Homo sapiens: one gene and its partners. The protein of the gene in region 5 purifies or fractionates together with the protein of the main gene of each other region. This does not show direct contact. Each region holds a gene or a part of one and is shown on either strand. Other genes may lie near its edges.

Region 1 (3,500 bases), on a different chromosome or scaffold from region 5:
GGCTGGTCTTGAACTCCTGGGCTCAAGCAATGTTCCCGCCTTGGCCTCCCAAAGTGCTGGAATTAGAAGCGTGAGCAACCGTACCTGGTCAACAGTCTCTAAAAATTTTTTTTTATGACAAGGTGTCACTATGCTGCCCATGCTGGTCTCCATCTCCTGGCCTCAAGGGATCTTGCCGCCTCAGCCTTCCAAGTAGCTGGATTACAGGCTCCAGCCACTGTGCCCAGCCAGTTTAACTCATTCTTTTTTATATATTTTTTACTTTTATCTTAATTTATTTATTTTTCTGAGACAGGGTCTTACTCTGTCACCCAGGCTGGAGTGCAGTGGCAAGATCTCAGCTCACTGCAACCTCTGCTTCCTGGGTTCAAGCGATTCTCCTGCCTCAGGCTCCCGAATAGCTGGGATTACAGGTGCCCGCTACCACACCCAGCTAATTTTTGTATTTTTGTAGAGACAGGGTTTCACCATGTTGGCCAGGATGGTCTTGATCTCTTGACCTCGTGACCTGCCCGCCTCAGCCTCCCAAAGTGCTGGGATTACAGGCTCGAACCACCGTGCCTGGCCAACTCATTCTTGTTAACAGCAAAATATCCTGTAGTGTGGATGTACCCATAATTTCTTAAAATGTTCCCCATAGACAATCAGGTTATATCTAATTTTTGCCAGTGAAAAGCATGGTGTAATACACATCTTTGCTCTTATAGCCTGAAGCTTTTAGTCTGTAGAACAGATTCCCCCAAATTGGAGAGCGAGATAAAAGATTTATGTGTCTTTAAAGTTTCAAGAGATTCTGCCTCATTACTTTCCCTAAAGGTTGAGGCAGTTCTTATCCCCACCAGTAAGGTGCCAATTTTTCTGTTGGTACAATCTTAATAACCCTGGGTGTTATTTGTTTTACATTTTGTGGGTAAATGTAAACTCACGGTAAATGTAAACACAGTACCCATGTAAACGAATGGGTAAATGTCTCATTTTAATTTTGCTTTTCCTGACAGGTCACGCAGAGCATCTTTTTTTTTTTTTGAGACGGAGTCTCCCATTGTCACCCAGGCTGGAGTGCAATGGTGCAATCTTGGCTCACTGCAACCTCCCCCTCCCGAGTTCAAGTGATTCTCCTGCCTCAGCCTCCCAAGTAGCTGGGATTACAGGTGCCTGCCACCACACCCAGCTAATTTTTGTATTTTTAGTAGAGACAGGGTTTCACCATGTTGGCCAGGCTGGTCTCAAACTCCTGACCTCAGGTGATCTGCCCACCTTGGCCTCCCAAAGTGCTGGGATTACAGTTATGAGCCACAGAGCCCAGTTGTCAACATTATTTATTAAATCAGCCACTGATTTAAATGCTTCCTTTAATCTTCAGTGCTTTTAAGGGGAAAATACATTTCTGGCTACAGGAGATGGAATGCAATAACCTAATGTCAAACAAAGCCGCCCCCTCCTTTACAGACTGCAACTCCCCTGTAGCTGAAGGTTTGCTGGTTGGTAATGGGTTTTCCGTGTGTGCTTTGTGTGTGTCTCTGTAGGCAGAAGAGCACTGATCGTACTGGCTCACTCAGAGAGGACGTCCTTCAACTATGCCATGAAGGAGGCTGCTGCAGCGGCTTTGAAGAAGAAAGGATGGGAGGTGGTGGAGTCGGACCTCTATGCCATGAACTTCAATCCCATCATTTCCAGAAAGGACATCACAGGTAGGAGGAGTTCCTCCTCCCCTCTTTAATTAGTTCTTTGCGGATCTCCTTGCCTGTGGGTCCTCTGGCCCAGCTTTGGCCCCTCTGGCCCCAGCCTCTCTTTTTCTTCTCTGCAGGTAAACTGAAGGACCCTGCGAACTTTCAGTATCCTGCCGAGTCTGTTCTGGCTTATAAAGAAGGCCATCTGAGCCCAGATATTGTGGCTGAACAAAAGAAGCTGGAAGCCGCAGACCTTGTGATATTCCAGGTATGGGGGGACATCGGAAGGGGTGTCAGGGACATTTGCGTGCTTATTGTCCTAGACATGTACCTAATTAGCTATGAGATCTTAAACAGTTACCCACTTTACTGCATTCTCTGCAAATAAGGGTGATTACTTTAAAGGTGCAGTATTACATGGATTTCACAGATATTGGGAATCTGGCTGTATTACTGTTGCATGTGTAAATGCAACTGCAAGGCCAGGCACGGTGGCTCACGCCTGTAATCCCAGCACTTTGGGAGGCCAAGGCAGGTGAATCACAAGGTCAAGAGACCAAGACCATCCTGACCAACATGGTGAAACCCTGTCTTTACTAAAAGTACAAAAATTAGCTGGGCGTGGTGGCATGTGCCTGTAGTCCCAGCTACTCTGGAGGCTGAGGCAGGAGAATCACTTGAACCCGGGAGGTGGAGGTTGAAGTGAACCAAGATTGCGCCACTGCACCCCATCCTGGTGACATGGCGACAGAGCGAGATTCTGTCTCAAAAAAAAAAAAAAAAGAAAGAAAGAAATGCAGCTGCAGAGATGATGTACAGTCCTTGAGCTTGCTTTCTTCCAGGTACTTAGTCTCCCCTTCAGTTAGCGATTCCTTCAGTTAGCGATTCCTTCAGTTAGCGAATCCTGCGGTTAGCGATTCCTGTTGGACTCTCTCAAAATTTGCAGTTCTCCTCCTTTCTCCATAAGAATCCCAAATACTTTGTAGAATAATCCATGAGACATTGACTTCTCTGCCATTGTAGCCTGCCAGCTGAAGGGGGCTTTGAAACCCTGCTGAATGTGTTCCTGCAGCAAACCACGGCCTTTCTTCTTCGGGAAGCTGCCTTACCGTTTAGCAGACAATGCTGGGATTGTGCGTGCATCTCGTCAGTGATCTTTCCTATAAATGTGACTGTACTCAATGACTTTGCTTTTACAATTCCAGCCAGTCTTTTGATATTGAACATAGAATGTATATGATCCTGGAAACCACGAGGAGGGTGGTACAGGCTGTGTTTTTTTTTTCTCTCTCTCTCTCTTTTTTTTTTTTAGTTATTCAATCAGCTACAAAACATCCAATCCTTGAAGTCCTTTATTTTACCCACAGGCCTGTTGCTAAGAATCAAAGCCACATGCCACTAGCCAGTACCCCAAAGGACGGCTTTAAAAAAAAATTAAATTGGAGACAAGGTCTCACGGTCACCCAGGATGGAGTGCAGTGGCATGATCTCTGCTCACTGCTGCCTCAACCTCCTGGGCTCAAATGATCCTCCCACCTCAGTCTCCCGAATAGCTGGGACTATCAGTGCACACCACCATGCCCTGCTAATTTTTTAATTTTTTTGTACAAATAGGGTCTCACCATGTTGCCCAGGCTGGTCTCAAACTCTTGGGCTCAAGTGATCTGCCTGCCTGGACCTCCCAAAAGGCTGGGATTATAGGCATGTGCCTTTCATATCTTTAAATCATGAATCAAGGATAAGAAAACCTCCTGGTATAGTCCTTACTCTGCTTTTATTAGGATAAGAGGTCAGACAAGACTTTCTCATGGGAAGTCCCTGATGAACCTT
Region 2 (3,500 bases), on a different chromosome or scaffold from region 5:
TGAAATAGTTCCATATTTTACAATCATTTGTCAGAAGGGCACAATTTATGACAAATTCTTTACATTAGTGGGCAGAAAATTAAAAAAAGAGCAGTGGTAATACCCAGTCATTTGAACATTTGAGGCATTGGCTTTGGAACCTGAAGGTACTCTTTTCCTCCTTATACTGGCTGAGTTTTGTGATTTGAAGCTTTAGGAAGTTTTGCTTCCATCATAATTGAAACTTTGATGACAGTTCTGTGGTCACTCCATAAAAGCCCTAAATTCTAATAGGAAATCTCATCATCTGATATATTAACTGATTATGATAAGCTTAGTAATGTGAGATTTGTTTCATTTTGCTATTTTAGAAATAAATCTCAGGCTAGCTTTAAGTACACAATGTAATTGGAAATTATTATAATCTGGAAACAGCATACTTTAAGAATTTAATAGATTTTTTTTTTTTTTTTTTTTGAGACAGTGTTGCTCTGTTGCCCAGGCTGGAGTGCAGGGGCGTGATCTCGGCTCATTGCAACCTCTGCCTCCCTGGGCTCAAGCAATTCTTCTGCCTCAGCCTCCCAAGTAGCTGGGATTACAGATGCATGCCACCACACCTGGCTAATTTTTGTACTTTTAGTAGAGATGGGGTTTCACCATGTTGGCCAGGCTGGTCTCGAACTTTTGACCTCAGGTGATCCACCCACCTTGGCCTCCCAGAGTGCTGGGATTACAGGCGTGAGCCACCGTGCCTGGCCAGATACTTTTATTTAAAAAATTAAAGAGGTGAAGATCAGGAGATACAGGCTTCTTAAAAGAGGAATTCTCATAGAATTGTTTTAAATAGTGTTCAAATGTATTTTAGGCTTTTTTCCTGGCATACATGTAAATTTTCAGTCAGACATTTTTGGCATAAACTAAGGCACAACTGAACTGGCTGATAATTTTGGTAGCCTTTAGAACTCTCATTATATTTGTTTTTGTAGACCATACTTTTGATGGCAAGTTAAGTATCATTGTTTTTGTCTAGATTGGAGAAAGTTTGAATATTGGTGTTGTACAAACTGCATATGCAAATGGAAGTTCAACACGGTATCTTGAAGAAGTTATGAAGGTATTGAACCATTTTTGTTTTCTGGTAGTTTCTTAATTAAGATCATGTTTCTGTGAGAAAGATACTGCCCTCATAAAAGTGATTATGTTGTAGTGCATGAAGCTGAGCTGCTGTTCATGTAAAGGTAAAGAGAAATAAATAAGAAAAAATTTAGTTGTCCTTGATGAATAAAGGAAAACTTCTTTCCTTCCTTTTCTTGGAGTTTTCCTTTAGAAAACTTGGAATTCTTTCTCTGTGCCTTTGTAATGAATGTAAGTCTTTCTAAAGGCCTAATAAGCCAGTTTTATAGCTCAGGAATACTTTTCTTTAAGGGCCTAGAGTCACCAATTTCAAATATAAACATCAAGGAAGATAGCTCACCTATCTCCCAGTCTCAGGAGAGTTTAACTTAGGTGTTTGCGTCCAATTTGTAACTATCTACCTGTCACAGAGGTATGAAAAGTTTTATTACTCCTTTAGAGAAGGGCAGTTAACACAGGTGGCCATCCCTATTACCAAGTAAGTTTAGGATAAACTATGTGTGTGACAAATGGTGGTTTCAAGTTTTCCTATTTGAGGACTAGTGTTAAAGAAAAAATAATTCATGACACTTGTTAAAATGGTAAGGCAGACTTGATTCAGGACTGTTGTGATAGGTACAGGGACTAATGTGATGGAGTTTTGCAGTGGTAGGAGAAAGATTGGGCTCAACTCCAAATATAGTAAGGAAAAGTAGGGCTTTATAGCCAAGGAGCAGGGTGTGTGGGGGGTGGTCAGTGGATGAAAAATTACTGAGAGGAAACATGAGGGTAAGTGGGTGGTATTTTGGCTAAACTGATCTAACAGGACTTTTGCTGAAGGTAGGCCAGGGCGGTCACATATTACCTGGGGGATGGTAGAGAATGAGAACTCAGATCAGATGTCAAGAGTGGTCATGTATCAGGATGAGGGATTCTCGCTAAGCTCACTTAGCATGACTCTTATTAAAATCGGGCTATTGGAAGACATGCCTAAGGACAAGGCCTAGTCAGGCCCACCTAAACCTAACTAAAGTTTGGTCAAGGAGAGAATTTTTGTCATTAGCCATCTTTTATCTTAGCAAATTGTATTGGAATGTGTCCGCTTGGCTATATTAAAGGGTGAGCGTTTATCTTTGCTATCTCTTAGCAAATTAGCCTGTGATTGAACATCAGTTTGGCTTAATACTTATTCAGTAATAAAACTGTTTCTTACCCTTCTTTTTTTTTTGGAGAGGTTTTCTGGGGTGGTGGGAGATTCTGTTTCTAATTATTTCCCCGGTGTCCACCAGGTGACCACCCTTGGCACCACACTACTTGCTCGGAGAGTTACCAGGGTTCATGGACAAAACTGGAAGTCTGTTTGCCTATACTTTCTCATTATCGAGAAGTTTTCCAACTTTTTTGTACCTCATTTTGTACCTCGTTCTGGCATTTATACTAGTTTTAGTTACCTTTCCATTCTCTAGAAAGCAGGAATTACAAAGTCAGATTCCTGCAGGATTTGGACAGGTAAAGTGAATGAGGGCAGCAGGGGGCTAAAAACAGGTCAGTATGTGCCAGCTGATGTCAACTGTAGTCACACTCTTCAAGAGAAGCAGGAAATCTGAATTTTCATGTGATGTTCCTATTTGTTTAAAAAGAAACAGTGGCTGGGCAAAACGAAATATATCTTGAGGCTGCTAGTTTATGACCTGATTTTAATATATGGTTATAATAAGCTCATTCAAGGGATTCCATCTGGGGCCCATTTGCCTGCCTTTCACAGGGATTGGGTTATTTCACAGTACTTGGGTTATTGTTTTAGGATTTTCATTTTCTGTCTTAAAAATTTATTACAGATAAAATAACCTAGTTTAAGAAACTGTTACTTCTCAACTCACTGTCTTCCAGATGAAATATTTTTAGCCCTTGCCATTCCTGAGGTCTCCTACATCCAATCTAATGCTGATCTTTCTTTTGCAGTTTTTCTACTATCAATCTTTCCTTAACCATTCTTAAAGCTCTCTCAGATCCATCCATCCATGACTTTCCCTATTCACTATTGCTGATCCAGCCACTATTTCTTACTGGGATTAGTCCTAGAAGCCTCCTCATTCCATTTCTTAACCTTCTAATTGAACTTGCTGCTATTTGCAAACAAAGTTTTATTGGAATAGAGCTATGTTGATTTGTTTATGTATGGTCTGTGGCTGCTTTTGCACTGTAATGGCAGAGTAATTGTGACAGAGACCATATGGCCTGCAAAGCCTAAAATATTTACTGTCTGGCCTGTTACAGAAAAAGCTTGCAATTCTGCTCTAAGCTATTCTCCACACTGTAGCTAAACAGCTTTCTAAAACAGTTAGGTCATGTCACGCCCCCACTTGTAATCTTTCGTGTCTTATAAGGAGACCCTCATCTCTCTCACC
Region 3 (3,500 bases), on a different chromosome or scaffold from region 5:
GTTAGCCCAGGAAATCCTCACAATAAAACCATGAGATAGATACTATTGTGCCCATTTTATTTTTAGAGACAGAGTCTCATTCTATTGCCCAGGCTGAAGTGTAGTGGTGCAATCACCACTCACTGCAGTCTTGATCTCCTGGACTCAAGCGATCCTTCCACCTCAGCCTCCCAATTATCTAGAACTACAGGTGTGTGATACCATGCCTGGCTAGTGTTTTTAATATTTTTGTAGAGACAGGGCCCCACTAAGTTGCTCAGGCTGATCTCAAGCTCCTGGCCTCAAACGATCCTCCTGCCTTAGCCTCCAAAGCACTAGGATTATTGTTCCCATTTTATAGATTGAAAAAATGAAGAAAAATTAATTATTTTGCCCATCATAATACCACCACTAAGTGACAGAATCACATTATTTGGTATATTTCACAGATAACCAAAAAGTTTTATGCTGGAGCTTACCCTTTTAAATACCCTAAAATTAGATGTGTAAAATTTCCCTTTCTTAATCACAATTTAGGAAAGTTTCCATAAGCACTCATATCTTTTTTAGGCATTTATTACAAGATGTTGAAAATCTAATCCTGTGTTATCCAATATAATACCAACTAGCCATATGTGACCATTACACACATAAAACATGGTAGGTCTAGGCTGGGTATAAGTAGCTTACGCCTGTAATCCCAGAGCTTTGGGAGGCTGCGGCAAAAGCACTGAGGTCTGGGGTTCAAGACCAGCCTGGGCAACATAGCAATACTCTGTCTCTATAAAAAAAAAAAAAAAAAATTAAGAATTAGCTAGGAGTGGCAACACACACCTTAAGTCTCAAGTGCTCAGAAAGCTGAGGCAGGAGGATTGCTTGAGCCCAAGAGTTTGAGACTACGGTGAGCTATGATCACATCACTGCACTACAGCCTAGGTGACAAAGTGAGACCCTATCTCTTAAAAAAAAAAAAAAAAAAAAAAAAAAGGCCAGGTGCAGTGGCTCACGCCTGCAATCCTAGCACTTTGGCAGGCCGAATCATAAGGTCAGGAGTTCAAGACCAGCCTGGCCAATATGGTGAAACCCCATCCTACTAAAAATACAAAAATTAGCCAGGCATGGGTGGGGGGTGGGGGGCACCTGTAGTCCCAGCTGCTCAGTAGGCTGAAGCAGAAGAATCGCTTGAACCTGGGAGACGGAGGTTGCAGTGAGCCAAGATTGTGCCACTGCACTCCAGCCTGGGTGACAGAGTGAGATTCCAACTCAAAAAAAAAAAAAAAAAAAAAAAAGGCCGGGCCTGGTGGCTCACACCTGTGATCCCAGCACTTTGGGAGGCCGAGGCGGGCAGATCATCTGAGGTCAGGAGTTCAAGATCAGCCTGGTCAACACGGTGAAACCCCATCTCTACTAAAAATACTAAAAAAGTAGCCAGGCATGGTGGTGGGTGCTTGTAATTCCAGCTACTCAGGAGGCTGAGGCACAAGAATTGTTTGAGCCTGGGAAGTGGAGGTTGCAGTGAGCCTAGATCGTGCCACTGCACTCCGGCCTGGGCAACAGAGCGAGACCCTGTCTCAAAGAAAAAAAGAAGAAGAAAACAAATAAATCAATAAATATTTTAAAGAATTAAAGGGTGGCTGGTCTAAATTGAAAAGTGCTATAAGTATAAAATATGCACTAAATATTGAAGACTTGGTAAGAAAAAAAGGAAGGAAATACCTTAGTAATTTTTATACTTATTACATGTGTAAATGGCATTGTGGATATTATTGGTTTAACATGATTAAAATTAACAACCTGGTTTTTTATTGTTGTTGTTCAACGTTTTGCTTTTGAGTCTCACTCTGTTGCCCAGGATGGAGTGCAGTGGTGTGATCTCAGCTCACTGCAACCTCCACCTCCCAGGTTCAAGTGATTCTCCTGCCTCAGCCTCCCAAGTAGCTGGGATTACAGGCGTGCACCACCATGCCCGGCTAATTTTTCTATTTTTAGTAGAGATGGGGTTTCACCATGTTGTTCAGGCTGGTCTCAAACTCCTGACCTCAAGTGATCCACCTGCCTCGGCCTCCCAAAGTGCTGGGATTATAGGTGTGAGCCACTGTGCATGGCCAACAACCTGCTTCATTTTGTGTTTTTAAATGTGCCCAATAGAAAACTTGAAATTATCTATTTGTAGCTTACATTTATAGTTTGCACTATACTACTAATGAATAGCACTAATACAGAATAAATTGCAAATTGAATATAGGATATAATACTTCCCTAAAGGAAATATGAACTGAATATTTATTTTGAAGTAGGCTTACCCATCGTGGTGGTGGTGATGGTGGTGGTGGTGGTGGTGATGCTGTGGACCAATAAATTGTCGACAATTAAATAATTCATTCCCAATAGTCTCCCCAAGGAAGTCCCCAGTTCGTGTGATACAAGACTCCTGAGACCCTTGTGCTATATGAGTAGCATTCATTTCCCCTGAAATATCATGTTCTGGGTCTTCAGAGTGTGAACAAGCATCCAGCATTCGCATTCGATTATCTACTGATGGCAATGATTCAGTGTTAAAAACCAGGTCCTTTCCTGTTCCGCTGCTTGTCCCATTTCTTTCTGACATGCCTTGGGAGTCCCCCAGGCAAATGCCTGCTTGACTCTCTAACTTTCTATTCCGAAGATCTGTACCACAACTGCTTTTGGGAGGATTATGACCATGATCATCGTCTTCATCTTCCTCTTTGAGGGCTTCAATATCTGCAATGTCTTCTGACTGTACCTCACTGCCAGGGCTCCCAGCTGACTGGCTTGCGTGGCTAGAATTAACCTCATTGCTAGATCCATCACTATGCCCACTACTGCTACCAGGACCACTGCTTCCATCTTCACCACTGTTGGCAGTTTCGTCAGAACTTCCCTGCATGGATTCCTGTATTTTGAAACAAATAGATTTAAATAAATATTTAAACCAGTAAGAAAAAAGGTAACCAACATTAATAAACTGTACTTTTTAAAAAGGCTGCCAGTCTTGTTATACTCCTTTGAACAATACAAAATGGAATTAAAAACTCAAAGGATGTCAAAAATATTACGTAAAGGAGAGGACAAGCCCAAACATGAATTATGTATATATACCCAATTCAAATGATAAACACGCCAGAAAGCCAAAAATGCCTATAAAAGAAGAAAAACCTATTTTCATACCTCTGTGTCTGAAAGTCGTTGTTGCACATGTTTGGTTCTATTAATAAGTTGCTCATCCATTTCAATGTCACTACCTCCACTTTGATGTGTATCGCTATTATCACTGCTTTGAGGACTAGCTGCAGGTGACCCTATATAAAATACATTTTTTGTTTTTACTTCTAATTTATATTAACATTGACTTAACAGAATGACATTATCATTTGATTCCTTGACCTAGTTACCAAAGCTTTATGCTAAGTAGCCAAAAATAAAATCTCTAAATATGTTAACATTTGCTCATGATTTCTAAAGAAGATGTAAGATTCAATTAAAAGTCAAGATGTTTAAGA
Region 4 (3,500 bases), on a different chromosome or scaffold from region 5:
ATTATTAATAACAGCCAAAAACCGGAAACAACTCAAATGTCCATCAACAGATAAAAGAAGAAACAACCCCAGCACTTTGGAAGGCTGAGGCGGGCGGATCACGAGGTCAGGAGATCGAGACCATCCTGGTTAACAAGGTGAAACCCCGTCTCTACTAAAAATAAAAAAAAAATTAGCTGGGTGTGTTGGCGGGCACCCGTAGTCCCAGCTACTCGGGAGGCTGAGGCAGGAGAATGGCGTGAACCCGGGTGGCAGAGCTTGCAGTGAGCCGAGATCGCACCACTGCACTCCACCGCACTCCAGCCTGGGCAACAGACCAAGACTCCATCTCAAAAAAAAAAAAGAAGAAACAAATTGTGATTTATCAGCACGAGAGAAAACGTACAAACTACTGATACACACACCAACAATGGTAAGTCCCGGAGATGTTATTTTAACAACGGAAGACAAAAAGAGCACATACTGAATGATTCTAGAACAGGCAAAACTAATGAACAGTACCATTAACCAACAGTGGTTCCCTAGGGCTGGGGTGAGGGGACTGACAGCAAAAGGACATCAAGTAACTCCTTGGGATGACAGAAATGTTCCATATCTTGATAGCGCGGGGTGTATACATTTACCGAAACTCAAACATCTTACTAAAATGGGTGCATTTTATAGTAGGTAAATTTTAAACTCAATAAAATTAAAACTCAATAAAATGTTCTAAGAATAAAAATTTATAATCGTGGATAAAGAGTAGCATTATTTACAAACCATATAATATTTACCTGCTAAGAAAACCCAGAAGAAACAACTGGCCGGGCACGGTGGCTCACGCCTGTAATCCCAGCACTTTGGGAGGCCGAGGCAGGTGGATCACCTGAGGTCAGGAGTTCAAGACAAGCCTGGCCATCATGGTGAAACCCTGTCTCTACTCAGAATACAAAAATTGGCCAGGCTAATTTTACAGGTGGCGCCTGTAATCCCAGCTACTCAGGAGGCTGAGGCAGGAGAATCGCTTGAACCCAGGAGAAGGAGGTTGCAGTGAGCCAAGATCACGCCATTACACTCCAGCCTGGGTGACAGAGCAAGACTTTGTCTCCAAAAAAAAAAAAAGACTGAAAAACTATTGAAGTAAACATTTCATCACACAGTGAACCTCATAGACATGATGCTAAGTGAAAAAAGCCAGTGCCAAAAGACCTCCTACTGCATGATTCCATCACACAAAATGCTGAATACACACAAACCCAGAGCCAGATGAGTGGTTACTGCGGAAGCAGAGAATGGGAAGGAATTGTTGATGGGAGTTGGGTTGCTTCAGATGATGAAAATGCCTAGATTGTGGTAGTGATAGTTACACAACTCTGTAATACACTAATACACTAACACTAAAATGTATATTTAGAAGAGTGAACTCTATAGTATGTAATTATATCCCTATAAAGATGTTAAGAAATGTATGTTTACACATACATATTCCATTACAGTGTTGCCATTTACAAAAACAGTATACAAAACATATCTTCACTAGACATCAGCAATAACTAGTTAGAACACATAACAAATAGTTTCACAAGAGCAATAAAAGACAAAACATACCTAGAAATAAACCTAAAAAAAAGTCTCCAGGAATCATCTAAAGAAAATCACCAACCTTCACTGAGGAACACAAAAGATGTGAATAATTAGAGACATAATACCATGATCTTAGACATGAAAATTAAATCTTAGAAAGACTTCTCCCCTACATGAATTTGTGAATTTAATAGAATTCCAAAGGGTGGAGAGTGATAAAATAATTCCGGAGTTCATCCGCATTAATGAACGGGCTACAAAACCATCAAGAAAATAAGAGGAAAGGATGCCAGGCAAAATATAAACTAACATCAAACAAAATGACCCAGGCCAGGCGTGGTGGCTCACGCCTCTAATTCCAGCACTTTGGGAGGCCAAGGCGGGCAGACTGCTTGAGGTCAGGAGTTCGAGACTATCCTGGCCAACATGATGAAAACCGTTCTCTACTAAAAATACAAAAATTAGCCAGGCGTGGTGGCACATGCTACTCGGGAGGCTGAGGCAGGAGAATCTCTTGAACCTGGGAGGCGGAGGTTGCAGTAAGCCAAGAACACGCCACTGCACTCCAGCCTGGGTGACAGAGCGAGACTCCATCTCAAAAAAAAAAAAAAAACAAACAAACGAAATGACCCAGAAAAAAGAGCATACAGATAGGTCAATGGAACAGGATAAAAAATCTAAAAGCAAAGGCTAATATATTTGAATATTTAATATAGATTTAAAATGGCATTTCAAGTAGGGGAGAGGCCACTAAATCATCCAATAAATGAGGCTTACATAACTGATTAGGAAAAATAAACTTTCTAACCGTACTACCAAAGGCCAAACACAAAGAAACTGATAGTTTGACAAGCTAAATATTTCTAAAACTTCAGTAGAGACTGGGTGCAGTGGCTCACACCTGTCATCCCAGCACTGTGGGAGGCCAAGGCAGGATTGCTTGGGGCCAGAAGTTCGAGACCAGCCTGAGGAACACAGCGTGACCCTGACCCTGCAAAAACAAAATTTTTTTTTTTTTGAGACAGTCTGGCTCTGTAGCCCACGCTGGAGTGCAGTGGCACGATCTCGTTCACTGCTACCTCCGCGTCCTGGGTCCCAGTTCAAGCAATTCTCCTGCCTCGGCCTCTCAAGTAGCTGGGATTACAGGCATGCTTCACCATGCCCAGCTAATTTTTGTATTTTTAGTAGAGACAGGGTTTCACCATGTTGGTCAGGCTGGTCTTGAACTCCTGACCTTGTAATCCACCCGCCTCGGCCTCCCAAAGTGCTAGGATCAGAGGCATGAGCTACTGCGCCTGGCCAAAAAAAAAAGTTTTTTAATTAACTAGGCATGGCAGCTTGTGCCTGTTGTCCCAGCTCTGCAGGAGGCTGAAGTGAGAAGATCACTTAATCCCAGGAGCTCAAGGCTGCAGTGAGCTATGACTGCGCCACTACACTCCAGCCTGGGTGACAGAGCGAGATCCCATCTCTTTAAAAAAACAAACACGAAAAAACTTCAGTAGATAAAATACACCAGACACAATATTAAAAGGCAAAAGCAGGCCGGGCACAATGGCTCACACCTGTAATCCCAGCACTTTGGGAGACCAAGGTGGGCAGATCACGTGGGGGTCAGGAGTTTGAGACCAGCCTGGCCAACATGGTGAAACCCTGTCTCTACTAAAAATGCAAAAAATTAGCCAGGCGTGGTAGCACACGCCTGTAATCCCAGCTACGCTGGAGGCTGAGGCAGGAGAATCGCTTGAACCCTGGAGGCAGAAGTTGCAGTGAGCCAAGATTGGGCCACTATACTCCAGCCTGGGCAACAGAGAGACTACATCTCAAAAAAAAAAAAAAAAAAGAAAAAAAAAAAAGCAAAAGGGTGGAAAAATGTGCAACAAATGACAAAGGACCAGCATCCCACGACTACATTTTCCTTTTTCTAAAAAGGAATTCCA
Region 5 (3,500 bases):
AAGTTACCAGAAAAAAACAAAAGAAAGAAAGGTCCCAGAACTCTGGCCCTACAATTACTTTTGCTCAGGTGGCTTTTTTTTTTTTTTTTTTTTGAGTTGGAGTCTCGCTTTGTCGCCCAGGCTGGAGTGTGCAATGGCGCGATCTTGGGTCACTGCAACCTCTGCCTCCCAGGTTCAAGCAATTCTGATGCCTCAGCCTCCTCAGTAGCTGGGATTACAGGTGCCCGCCGCCACACCCGGCTAATTTTTGTATTTTTAGTAGAGATAGGGCTTCACCATGTTGGTCAGGCTGGTCTCTTTGGCCAGGCTGGTCTCGAACTCCTGACCTTGTGATCTGCCTACCTCGGCCACCCAAAGTGTTGGGATTACAGGCGTGAGCCACTGCGCCCGGCCAGCTGACTTTTTTTCTTTATTTCAACAGGCACATGTGACTGGTGTGGTTGAGACAAAGGTTCTAAGGATTGAAAAGCCGGGGACTCCTTTGGCTGGGATTGAGGGGTCTCCCGGGGTGTGAAAGGCATGGCCCTAGGATTGAGAAGGTGGTGAGTCTAATGTGGTACATAAGTGTGCAGCCTCTGGAAGCAAGCAGATTCCTGCTCAAATCCCAGTTCTGTGTAACCTTGGCTGAGTCTCAGTTTCCCAATCTGTAAGTGGGGCTAATAATTGAATCTTTTTTTTTTTTTTCAAGACTGAGTCTTGCTCTGTTGCCCAGTCTGGAGTACAGTGGTGTGATCTCAGCTCACTGCAACCTCCATCTCCCAAGTTCAAGCAATTCTCGTGCCTCCACCTCCTGAGTAACTGGGACTACAGGCACGCACCACCACGCCCTGCTAGTTTTTGTATTTTTAGTAGAGACGGGGTTTTACCATGTTAGCCAGGCTGTTTTCAAACTCCTAGCCTCCCAAAATACTGGGATTACAGGCATGAGCCACTGCACCCAGCCTTAATGATTGAATCTTCTATGGAGTTTTCAGTGAGATACTTGTTTTGATACCCAGTAAAAATGCTTACTAAATGGGAGCTATTGTCCTATCATCACAATTTGTATTTTTACATGAACTCAACTCACCCTATAACCAAATTAAGCTGACAAATGGTTTTCTAGACTAGGTGGAGGTATTGTCCAGCAGAACTAATGGTGATGATTTGCGTGAGGGGGTTCAGGGCAGGGGTCTAGTGACTGGGTTTAGGACCCATCCAGCAGCTGAGGGCCCATGCTAGAGGCTAACTGGGACTTTGAAGGCAGGGGGTCTCGGTTCACATGCTGGCTTTGTCATTAGCAAATATGCACCCTGACTGAGGCAGATGATGTCACTCTGTGAATCTCAGCTTCCTCATCTGTCCTGTGGAAACAGTAACAGTCTCTCCTTGCCAGTTTTCTTTTGCTAATTACAAGTAAAGGGTTTAGCACAGTACCTGGTCTACAGTAAGCACCTGGTCAATGTGTAGGTTTTTTTCTTTTTAACCCAGATGTGTACTGGGTTAAAAAGAAGCCCCGGCCAGCACTTTGGGAGGCCGAGGCAGGCAGATCACCTGAGGTCAGGAGTTCGAGGCCAGCCTGGACAACATGGTGAAATCCTGTCTCTACTAAAAATACAAAAATTAGCCAAGAGTGGTGTTGGGCGCCTGTAGTCCCAGCTACTCGGGGGGCTGAGGTAGGAGAATTGCTTGGACCCGGGAGGCAGAGGTTGCAGTGAACCGGGATCACACCACTGCACTCCAGCCTGAGAGACAGAGCGACACTCTGTGTCAAAAAAAAAAAAAAGAAAAAGAAAAAAACAGAAGCCATCCCTGCAGGTCCCAACCAGCCCCTGGGCACCTACCTTTCTGAGTGCACGTCCCTGGGAGGTCTCTCCTCTTCTACGTCTCCTGTGGGGACCTCAGGCTTTCTGATGGGGTCTACCTCCACTGCTGAAGGGTTGGGTTCCATTGCTGGGGTGTCCTCTAGAGGGCCAGTGGCCTTCACCATCACCTCTTTGGCTGCCTCCAAGCCTGGGGGGTCGGGTACACCTCCGGGTACCAAGTTGGGCTTGGGACCCGCCTCCTGGGCCTGCCGGGCAGCCTGTGAGTTCTGTGCTTTCTTGATGCTGGGGCGAGGCATGGTGCCCATGTGGCTGTACATGTCACTGGAGCGGGCATAGGCTGGGGGACTCTTGGGCACCGTCACCATGTCATCCTGCGTGGCTTCAAAGGTGTCAGGCTCCAAATGGGACTGCCTACTGATGGAAGCTGAGGATCGTCTCAGAGTGAAGGACCGAGGGAGGTTGGAGAGACTCCCAAAGCCCTTGAACTTGAAGAACTCTAGCAGAGGGGAAGGGAAGGAAAAGAAGTTAATGACAATGTCAACATCAGTGATAATAATGAACAATTCCTGCAGTTTCACTCGGTGAGGGGCTGAAGAGGGCTGGCGGTTTCCCAGACACCCCTTCTAAAATTGTTAACACGCCCCTAGAAATGGTATAAGATGGGAGCTTTGGAGTCACGGGGCCCTGGACTTGAATTCCTGCTCTTTCACATCCTAGCTGTGTGACCTTAGGCAAGTCACTTGACCTCTCTAAGCTTAGCCTCATTCTCCACATCAGTAAAATAGAGATTCTAGCACCTACCCACTAGGGCAATGTGAGAATTACAGAAAAGCTTAGGCCAGGCGTGGTGGCTCATGCCTGTAATCCCAGCACTTTGGGAGGCCGAGGCGGGTGGATCACCTGAGGTCAGGAGTTCGAGACCAGCCTGGACAACATGATGAAACCCCTTCTCTACTAACAATACAAACATTAGCCGGGTGTGGTGGCGCACCTGTAATCCCAGCTTCTTGGGAGGCTGAGGCAGGAGAATTGCTTGAACCCGGGAGGCGGAGGTTGCAGTGAGCCGAGACTGCACCATTGCATTCCAGCCTGGGCAATAAGAGCAAAACTCCGTCTCAAAATTAAAAAGAAAAAGAAAGAAAAGATTATAAATAACATGCTTAACATGGTGCTTGGCACACAGAATAGCCTCAATCAGAATTAGCAAAGATGATGATGATGACGATAATAAATGTTTCTCAGCTGGGTGTGGTGGCTCACACCTGTCATCCCAACACTTTGGAAAGATGAGCCAGGAGGACTGCTTGAGGTCAAGAGTTCAAAACCAGCCTCGGCAACATAGCAAGACCCTGTCTCTACAAAAAATAAAAAAGTAAGGCCTGGTGCCATGGCTTATGCCTATGATCCCAGCACTTTGGGAGGCTGAGGCGGGCAGATCATCTGAGGTCAGGAGTTCGAGACCAGCCTGGTCAACATGGTGAAACCCTGTCTCTACTAAAAATACAAAAATTAGCTGGGCATGGTGCATGCCTGTAATCCCAGCTACTTGGGAGGCTGAGGCAGGATAATAGCCTGAATCCTGGAGGTGGAGGTTGCAGTGAGCCGAGATTGCACCATTGCACTCCAGCCTGGGTGACAAGAGTGAGACTCCATCTCAAAATGAATAAATAAATAAATAAAAATAAAAAGTTAGCT
Region 6 (3,500 bases), on a different chromosome or scaffold from region 5:
ACCTCCACCTCCTCCCGGGTTCAAGCAATTCTCCCGTCTCAGCCTCCCAAGTAGTTGGGATTACAGGCGACCACCACCACACCCAGCTAATTTTTGTATTTTTAGTAAAGACAGGGTTCCATCATGTTGGCCAGGCTGATGATCTCAAACTCCTGACCTCAAGAAATCCGCCCATCTTGGCCTCCCAAAGTGCTGGGATTATAGGCGTGAGCCACCGCGCCCAGCCTGTCACTATTTTTCCTCTCTAGACTGTGTACTCCTTTTACATCTATATACCTGATCCCTAATACACTGCTCAATATACTAACAAACATAAAACAAATGTGTGTGGATTCAGCATGCAAATAAACTAAACCACGGACCAATATGATATGGCCAAGAGCCTTTCTAACAAGCAGGAGGAAGCAGCAACAGTCTATCCCTCTCCCTGCATCGCCCCTCCAAAAAATGAGAGAAATATTTTAATTTATAAATTCTGATCAAACACCTTTAGACACACTTGTTATGAAAACTGCCACAGAAATTAGCTTGGCTAAAAACTAGCACAATTATTAGAAGTAGGGACTTAAAGTAAAATTCTATTTTGACTTTGCTGCCTTTATAGGCTTCTTTTGGCCAGAGCTAATACATAAATGAAGAAGTTTTCCTGGGAGGAGTAAGGTTGGCTTCATCTGGTGAAATATTTTATCAACATATTACACTTTCCACTTAGTAGTTCCCTTCACTCACAGAAGTTTCAAGAACCTAAACATATTCTTCCACTTTTAATTAAAAGATTGGTTAATGCAAATTGCCCATCAGTCCCAGAGGAGTCATAATGACGTCTTTTCATTCTGTGATAAAGAATGTGCCTAGCGTTTTCTAGCAAATAACTGCCTAACATTCTCCATTTATTCAACAAAGATTCAAGTGCCTACAACGTATACACCCACGTACAGGAAACCAAAGACTGTCCTGACCTTCAAATTTCTTGGTCTGTGGGAAAATAATAAGGGTGGTCTAGATATTGACTGCTGTGGAAGCTAAAGCAATTCCGTCTTAGATACTGATCCACCATGCTGACTTCTGATTAACTCCAGTTTTAAGATTTCCAGTTTATCTATTATTCCTTGTGAAAGAGCCCCTATTTACTATAAATCCTGCCCTGAGGTCAAACAACCTTGACATTATCATACTTCAGTCATGCCATACCTCCCTTCTGAATCGCCCTTCCCTATGGTATTAAGCCCTGGGTCTGAGGGGTAATGGTATGGGATCCACCATCTTGTCTCGCCAACACGCAAGACACAGACATGGTTTCTGGTCCTAAGTCCCTACTAAACATTTCTTTCTGAGAAACTTGATTTGTCAGCCTCTTTCTTTGGCCTCTCAGCTTCCTCAGACTTTGGGGGTAGGTTTGCATAGACCTACCCACCATGCAAAAGCTAAAAAAAAGAAATGAAACCTTAAAAATTTCTGTCCCATCTCCCATAGTCTCTCCCACTGCACATAATGACTTAGCGATTCCATACCTAGGTATATTTCAGGAGAAATGAAAGCACATGTGGACCAAGGGTTAAGTCACTCAGTCACCCCTTCTCCATCCCAAATGTTAGCAGTGTAACATCAATGCAGTTATTACCAGGATTACCCTAAAAAAATATAGACCCTCACAGGCTATAATGCATAGGCAACTCACTGACAGAAATGGATAGTCTAAGACTTAACCTCTCTCCCAGGTAATAAGAGAACTGTATAAAAAGGTAAGGTTTGAAATGTTCAAATTCTCCCATTTTAAAGGGATCAGAGGCTACTTATTAACATTTCCCATTTACCCCCAAGAAAAGAGCACTGGCAGCAAGCTGCACTTAAAAAAAAAAAAAGGAAATGGGTTAAAGGTAAGTATCTCAAAAGAAGAGCCCATGGCATTCTAAGCAGTGAGCAATAAAGTTCCCATTTAAGTTCCCTTCAAAGTGGCTGGGAATACCTGCACAACCACCTCCCTCCTGCCAAGAGAGAAAAAGAAATAAGAATTTTTAAGTGGATCGAGGTCATACTCATGAACACATCTGACTCAATGCTCACTTATTAAAGTTTACAAAACTCCCAATTCACCTGTCAGCAAACCAAATCTGACCACAGAAGATACGCCCAATAAATTGCTTTCACATGGTTGACTGTGTTTCCAAAATAGGACACTCTGATTCTTGAGAGAGGAGGCAACAGAGTGTTCGCCTATAGTAGTCCCAAACCATAAAGCTCTCCTAGATCAGTAAAGCATCACAACTAATTGGGAAGTGGAAGACATCATATTAGCACAAAGCTGCCCACTTAGATAAAAGCATTTACCAAGCAAGGGGAGATTTTTTTTTAATACCATCTGTTACTGTCATAATTTTCTAACAGAATATCTTAATGTCAGAAAGTAAAAATGACATATTCTTTAAAAAGAAATTATGTTGCATGTCCATTGCCGCATCACAAGAAAATGGCTGGACAGATTTTCACCAAATATGAAATGTACGCTTTGGATAATATAGTAGAGTCAGCTTCCTGGACAGGGGGTAGACTACCCCAGGTGTGGCCTGTAACAGAGTTCTAGCCAACAGAATGTAAGTGGCAGTGACCCTGGACCCTAAACCTTCCCACACTCATATACCCTTCTCCACGCTCTTGAGCCTTCTGTGCTGGACAGTGACGCCCATAAAAGCCATGTTTGACCAAGGGGGAGCTTCCTTCAGCCTGGTGCCCTCAATAACTGTGGGAAGCAGAGCACCCACCCACCTCCTTCAACCTCAAACCACTTTGGGCCATTCATGTAGGAAAGGAATACATTTCTTTTTTTTTCTTTTTGAGATGGAGTTTCACTCTTGTTGCCCAGGCTGGAGTGCAATGGCAGGATCTCGGCTTACTGCAACCTCCGCCTCCAGGGTTCAAGTGATTATCCTGCCTCAGCCTCCCAAGCAGCTGGGATTACAGGCATGTGCCACCACGCCCAGCTAATTTTGTATTTTTAGTAGAGACAGGGTTTCTCCATATTGGTCAGGCTAGTTTTGAACTCCTGACCTCAGGTGATCCGCCCACCTCAGCCTCCCAAAGTGCTGGATTATAGGTGTGAGTCACTGCACCCGGCCATAAATTTCTAATATGTTTATACCATGATACATGTTGAGATTTATTATTATAACACTTAGCCTACACATGATTCCACATGATTGAACTTAAAATATGGGCTATGAATTAATAATTTAAAAGCAATTCAATTTTTAAAAAGACAGAAAATTTGAACATATACTTCAAAGGAATATATACCAATGGTCAATAAGCATGTAAAAAGATGCTTTGCATCATTAGTCATCAGAGCAAAGCAAATTAAAACCATAATGAGATACCACTGCACACCCAACAACTAAATGTAAAAGACTGACAACACCAAAAGTTGGTAGGATGTGGAGCAACTGGAACTCCCATACACTGCTGATGAAGTATAAAATGGTACAACCACTTTGGAAAAAGGCTCA
Region 7 (3,500 bases), on a different chromosome or scaffold from region 5:
TTTCTTGCAAGCTGTTAGGCATTTTTCTTATCACTTCTAAGACCTCTTTACATACATAGTAGAGAGATTAGCTTTCTATGAATATGACTTGTTAATATTTTTTCCAAGTTTGTTGTTTTGCTCTTTGTTATGATAATTTTGCCCCCACCCCATTTTTTTTACATACTCAAAATTATACATCTTTTCTTTTTTGGCTTCTGCATTTTGAGTCATTAGAAGGCACTCCAAGTTTGCAGGATAAGTCTCCCACATATAAAACTTTTATGGTTTTGTTTTTCCTGGTTATATCTTTGATCTATTTGGAGTTTGGCCTGGTATAAAGTGTGAGGTATGGATCTGAGTTAGTATTTTTAAACTGGGTTTGGAGTTTGGCCTGGTATAAGGTGTGAGGTATGGATCTGAGTTAGTATTTTTAAACTGGGTTTGGAGTTTGGCCTGGTATAAGGTGTGAGGTATGGATCTGAGTCAGTATTTTTAAACTGGGTTTGGAGTTTGGCCTGGTATAAAGTGTGAGGTATGGATCTGAGTTAGTATTTTTAAACTGGGTCCATATTTCATGAGATGATTGGTCAAGTGGCATGCACGGTTTATGCCCTCTCTCCTGCTCCTCCAGGACAGACCGTCATCCAATTGCACCACTGGGTTTGCTTCTTTTTCTGTTTATGATCATTGGAATGAAACCAGTTTTCCCATCTAAAAATCCCAGCTAAAGTAAACCTAGTAAAGCTTTGTCTCTCCCAGCCAAAGAGGAGGGAGACCAGCCACAGATCATGATAAAGGACAAGATTCCCATAGATTTCAGGAAGAAGGACCAGTGGAGGGGGCAGAAAGAGCATTTTCCCTCTTGAGCAGTCTCCCAAAAGGGTGCGCTTTTGACAACTGCTCAGTAGCGTGTTCACAAGCTGTGGGTCAGGCTGGTGGCACAGGGCAAACTCCAGCCAAGGAGACGTCTAGACAAGATAGCAAAAGGGAGAGTCTTTCTCATGAGCTGTTCCCACCACCAACCAAGGAGCAGCCCTGCCACCCCACCTGGAGGCTCATTCTGCTTTGTCCCCAGGGGTGTTGAGTAAGGTGGTTAGCTTTTCTTCTCGCTTCTCTGCACCATGACAGGAGAATTCCAGTAACTATTACCCTGATTCACGGTGCCAACTGAGCAGGGCACAGGGTTGCCAGGTGATACATGGCACCCAGGTAAACATGAATTTCAGATAAACAGTAAATGCACTTTTAGCTTAAGTATATCCCAAATATTGTTTTGGGACATACTAAAAAAAATTATGTGTCATTTTTCTGAAATTCAGATTCACTGGGCATCCCGTATTTTTATTTGCTAAATTTGGCAACCTGAGTAGAATGTAAAGAGTTGGGAGAAGAAAGACTGTGACCACTTCAGACCTGTGTCACTCATGGACTAACTTTGCTGCATGGAAAAGGGAGATAGAAGTGTAAATATGTCCCAAACCTCCAGAGGATGAGACTAGTCTATCTCCCCATCTCTCCCCTGCTCCAAAGAGCCCAGCTCTGTGCATCAGAGGAATATTTGCCTGCAAGGCTCATTAGTTACATGGATCATGGCTTGACAAGAACATGCAGAGGGAGGATGGCTGATCATGTTGAAGGCCACTGAAAACATGAGATGGCAGCCACTGCCCAGAAGGAAGCCAGGCTGTACTTCTTGTTTGTGTCTTGCAGATTGATCAAAAGCAGTTCGACAAAATCTTAGAGCTGATCGAGAGTGGGAAGAAGGAAGGGGCCAAGCTGGAATGCGGGGGCTCAGCCATGGAAGACAAGGGGCTCTTCATCAAACCCACTGTCTTCTCAGAAGTCACAGACAACATGCGGATTGCCAAAGAGGAGGTACAAGGGGGCTGTGGCAAGGCTACGACTTGCGGGGCCTTTCAAACACGAGTCCTTCCCTAGGGCCCAGGGATCCCAGAAATCCTTGTGATCTGAGTGTTTTTTTGTTTTTGTTGCTGTTGTTGTCGTTGTTGTTTTTTCTGTGTGGTCTTTCCCCTCTCCTTTGGGGTCCCTAGGGAAGCCGTTTTGTCCTGCCTCTGGCGAACTCCAAGCATGATACAGCAGGTACCTTGTTTGTTCTAGCTAGTTTTCACTCATGGCTCACCCTCTCTGGGAGCAGCAAGCCCTCTCTGATTTTCTAACACAACCGGTCCCCGAGTCAGTCATGCAGCCGCAGGTGGAGAACTGTTGCCACCTGTGGGTTTTGCCAGGAATCAGTTCAAGAACCTGTGGATTCAGGGCCCAAAGCCGCCTTCAGTGCCCCTAGACTGAATTTCAAGTGTTCACTCAAGGAACATGTCACAGCTGGAATTTTTATTGACATTTTCCACCACGGACGTCTTGAAAATGAGGGAAATTAAGGAGACTCCCCCACTCCCATAAGAGTGTAAATCTTTCTCTTTCAACTCCACTGTTACACTAGACGGGAACTGGTTCCCACACAGCATTTGTAAGAGGAGAGCTGGATCCCAGGAGGTTAGACCCTGGAGGTGGTATTTTGGGGCACATAAAAGGATGAGTCCCTGCCAAGGGCTTTCTGGGGCAGGTATTTCAGAGGCGTCTTCCTTGAGATTGTTATGTGCCGTGATGGCATGAAGCTCAGCTCCTTAAACATCCCTGTGACGAGAGGTCCTGGGGAACCCGGAAGGTATTTTGGCAGGCCAGGCACCATCCTGCCGGCTTATAATTATGTCTAATATTGAATCAATTACAAGCTCCCTTCAAAATCACCTTTAAATGTTCAAGCCTTAGTTCTTCCATTTCCTTTTCTTTGCTGTGTCACAAACTGTGGTGAATATTGTGTCATTCCTTCCCCTGGTAGTTATTATGGAAACGTTCTAGGGTGTCTTCCTTGGTAGAAAACACAGCTCCAAGAGGTAGGAGCACAGTCTTACAAAGTGCCTGCAGATATCCTTCAGGACAACTCCGAAAAAAGTTACCTAAAGGTTTTGTGTTCTGTGCATCTATGGGTTACTCCAAGGCTCTCTGGCTGGGTTTCTCGGAAACCCTGATGACAACAAGACATCTTAAACACAACATATATTTTTTGTTATTATTTTTTATTTTTGTTTCATGTTAATCCTTCCCTTCAGTCTCCAATGGCAATGCAGCTGAAGCAATGTTTGGACGTTCTTTCTTCTCTAATCATCGTTTTTCAGGCATGTGTGTGCTCTGGGCATATGAAAAACATGTAAAGAGAAGGAAATGCTTGTTCACAGCATGCATTTCCATTCAGTCATGCCTCTCATTGCCATTCTTGCAATTAATCATAGATTTTCGGGCCAGTGCAACCAATACTGAAGTTCAAAAGTATCGAAGAAGTGATAAAAAGAGCGAATAGCACCGACTATGGACTCACAGCAGCCGTGTTCACAAAAAATCTCGACAAAGCCCTGAAGTTGGCTTCTGCCTTAGAGTCTGGAACGGTCTGGTGAGTTGACTGTGTGTGTATTTCAGCTCTCCTGAGTTGCTTCTTGCTAAGT

What was found.
Region 1: the proteins of SH2D3C (region 5) and NQO1 purify together in Homo sapiens (affinity purification with mass spectrometry; one large-scale study listed by BioGRID and IntAct). This does not show direct contact.
Region 2: the proteins of SH2D3C (region 5) and PGM3 purify together in Homo sapiens (affinity purification with mass spectrometry; one large-scale study listed by BioGRID and IntAct). This does not show direct contact.
Region 3: the proteins of SH2D3C (region 5) and USP34 purify together in Homo sapiens (affinity purification with mass spectrometry; one large-scale study listed by BioGRID and IntAct). This does not show direct contact.
Region 4: the proteins of SH2D3C (region 5) and TBCD purify together in Homo sapiens (affinity purification with mass spectrometry; one large-scale study listed by BioGRID and IntAct). This does not show direct contact.
Region 6: the proteins of SH2D3C (region 5) and CAT purify together in Homo sapiens (affinity purification with mass spectrometry; one large-scale study listed by BioGRID and IntAct). This does not show direct contact.
Region 7: the proteins of SH2D3C (region 5) and ALDH1A3 purify together in Homo sapiens (affinity purification with mass spectrometry; one large-scale study listed by BioGRID and IntAct). This does not show direct contact.

Annotation. Positions count from the first base shown.
Region 1 is NC_000016.10:69,716,561-69,720,060, reverse strand, and holds part of NQO1 (NAD(P)H dehydrogenase [quinone] 1), read left to right. Parts: intron 1-1,526; coding exon 1,527-1,691; intron 1,692-1,807; coding exon 1,808-1,938; intron 1,939-3,500. UniProt on the Homo sapiens protein: Flavin-containing quinone reductase that catalyzes two-electron reduction of quinones to hydroquinones using either NADH or NADPH as electron donors.
Region 2 is NC_000006.12:83,176,266-83,179,765, reverse strand, and holds part of PGM3 (phosphoacetylglucosamine mutase), read left to right. Parts: intron 1-1,009; coding exon 1,010-1,093; intron 1,094-3,500. UniProt on the Homo sapiens protein: Catalyzes the conversion of GlcNAc-6-P into GlcNAc-1-P during the synthesis of uridine diphosphate/UDP-GlcNAc, a sugar nucleotide critical to multiple glycosylation pathways including protein N- and O-glycosylation.
Region 3 is NC_000002.12:61,345,588-61,349,087, forward strand, and holds part of USP34 (ubiquitin carboxyl-terminal hydrolase 34), read right to left. Parts: intron 3,300-3,500; coding exon 3,169-3,299; intron 2,894-3,168; coding exon 2,283-2,893; intron 1-2,282. UniProt on the Homo sapiens protein: Ubiquitin hydrolase that can remove conjugated ubiquitin from AXIN1 and AXIN2, thereby acting as a regulator of Wnt signaling pathway.
Region 4 is NC_000017.11:82,758,565-82,762,064, reverse strand, and holds part of TBCD (tubulin-specific chaperone D), read right to left. Parts: intron 1-3,500.
Region 5 is NC_000009.12:127,772,167-127,775,666, forward strand, and holds part of SH2D3C (SH2 domain-containing protein 3C), read right to left. Parts: intron 2,302-3,500; coding exon 1,824-2,301; intron 1-1,823. UniProt on the Homo sapiens protein: Acts as an adapter protein that mediates cell signaling pathways involved in cellular functions such as cell adhesion and migration, tissue organization, and the regulation of the immune response.
Region 6 is NC_000011.10:34,441,934-34,445,433, reverse strand, and holds part of CAT (catalase), read right to left. Parts: intron 1-3,500. UniProt on the Homo sapiens protein: Catalyzes the degradation of hydrogen peroxide (H(2)O(2)) generated by peroxisomal oxidases to water and oxygen, thereby protecting cells from the toxic effects of hydrogen peroxide.
Region 7 is NC_000015.10:100,903,831-100,907,330, forward strand, and holds part of ALDH1A3 (retinaldehyde dehydrogenase 3), read left to right. Parts: intron 1-1,692; coding exon 1,693-1,857; intron 1,858-3,290; coding exon 3,291-3,448; intron 3,449-3,500. UniProt on the Homo sapiens protein: Catalyzes the NAD-dependent oxidation of aldehyde substrates, such as all-trans-retinal and all-trans-13,14-dihydroretinal, to their corresponding carboxylic acids, all-trans-retinoate and all-trans-13,14-dihydroretinoate, respectively.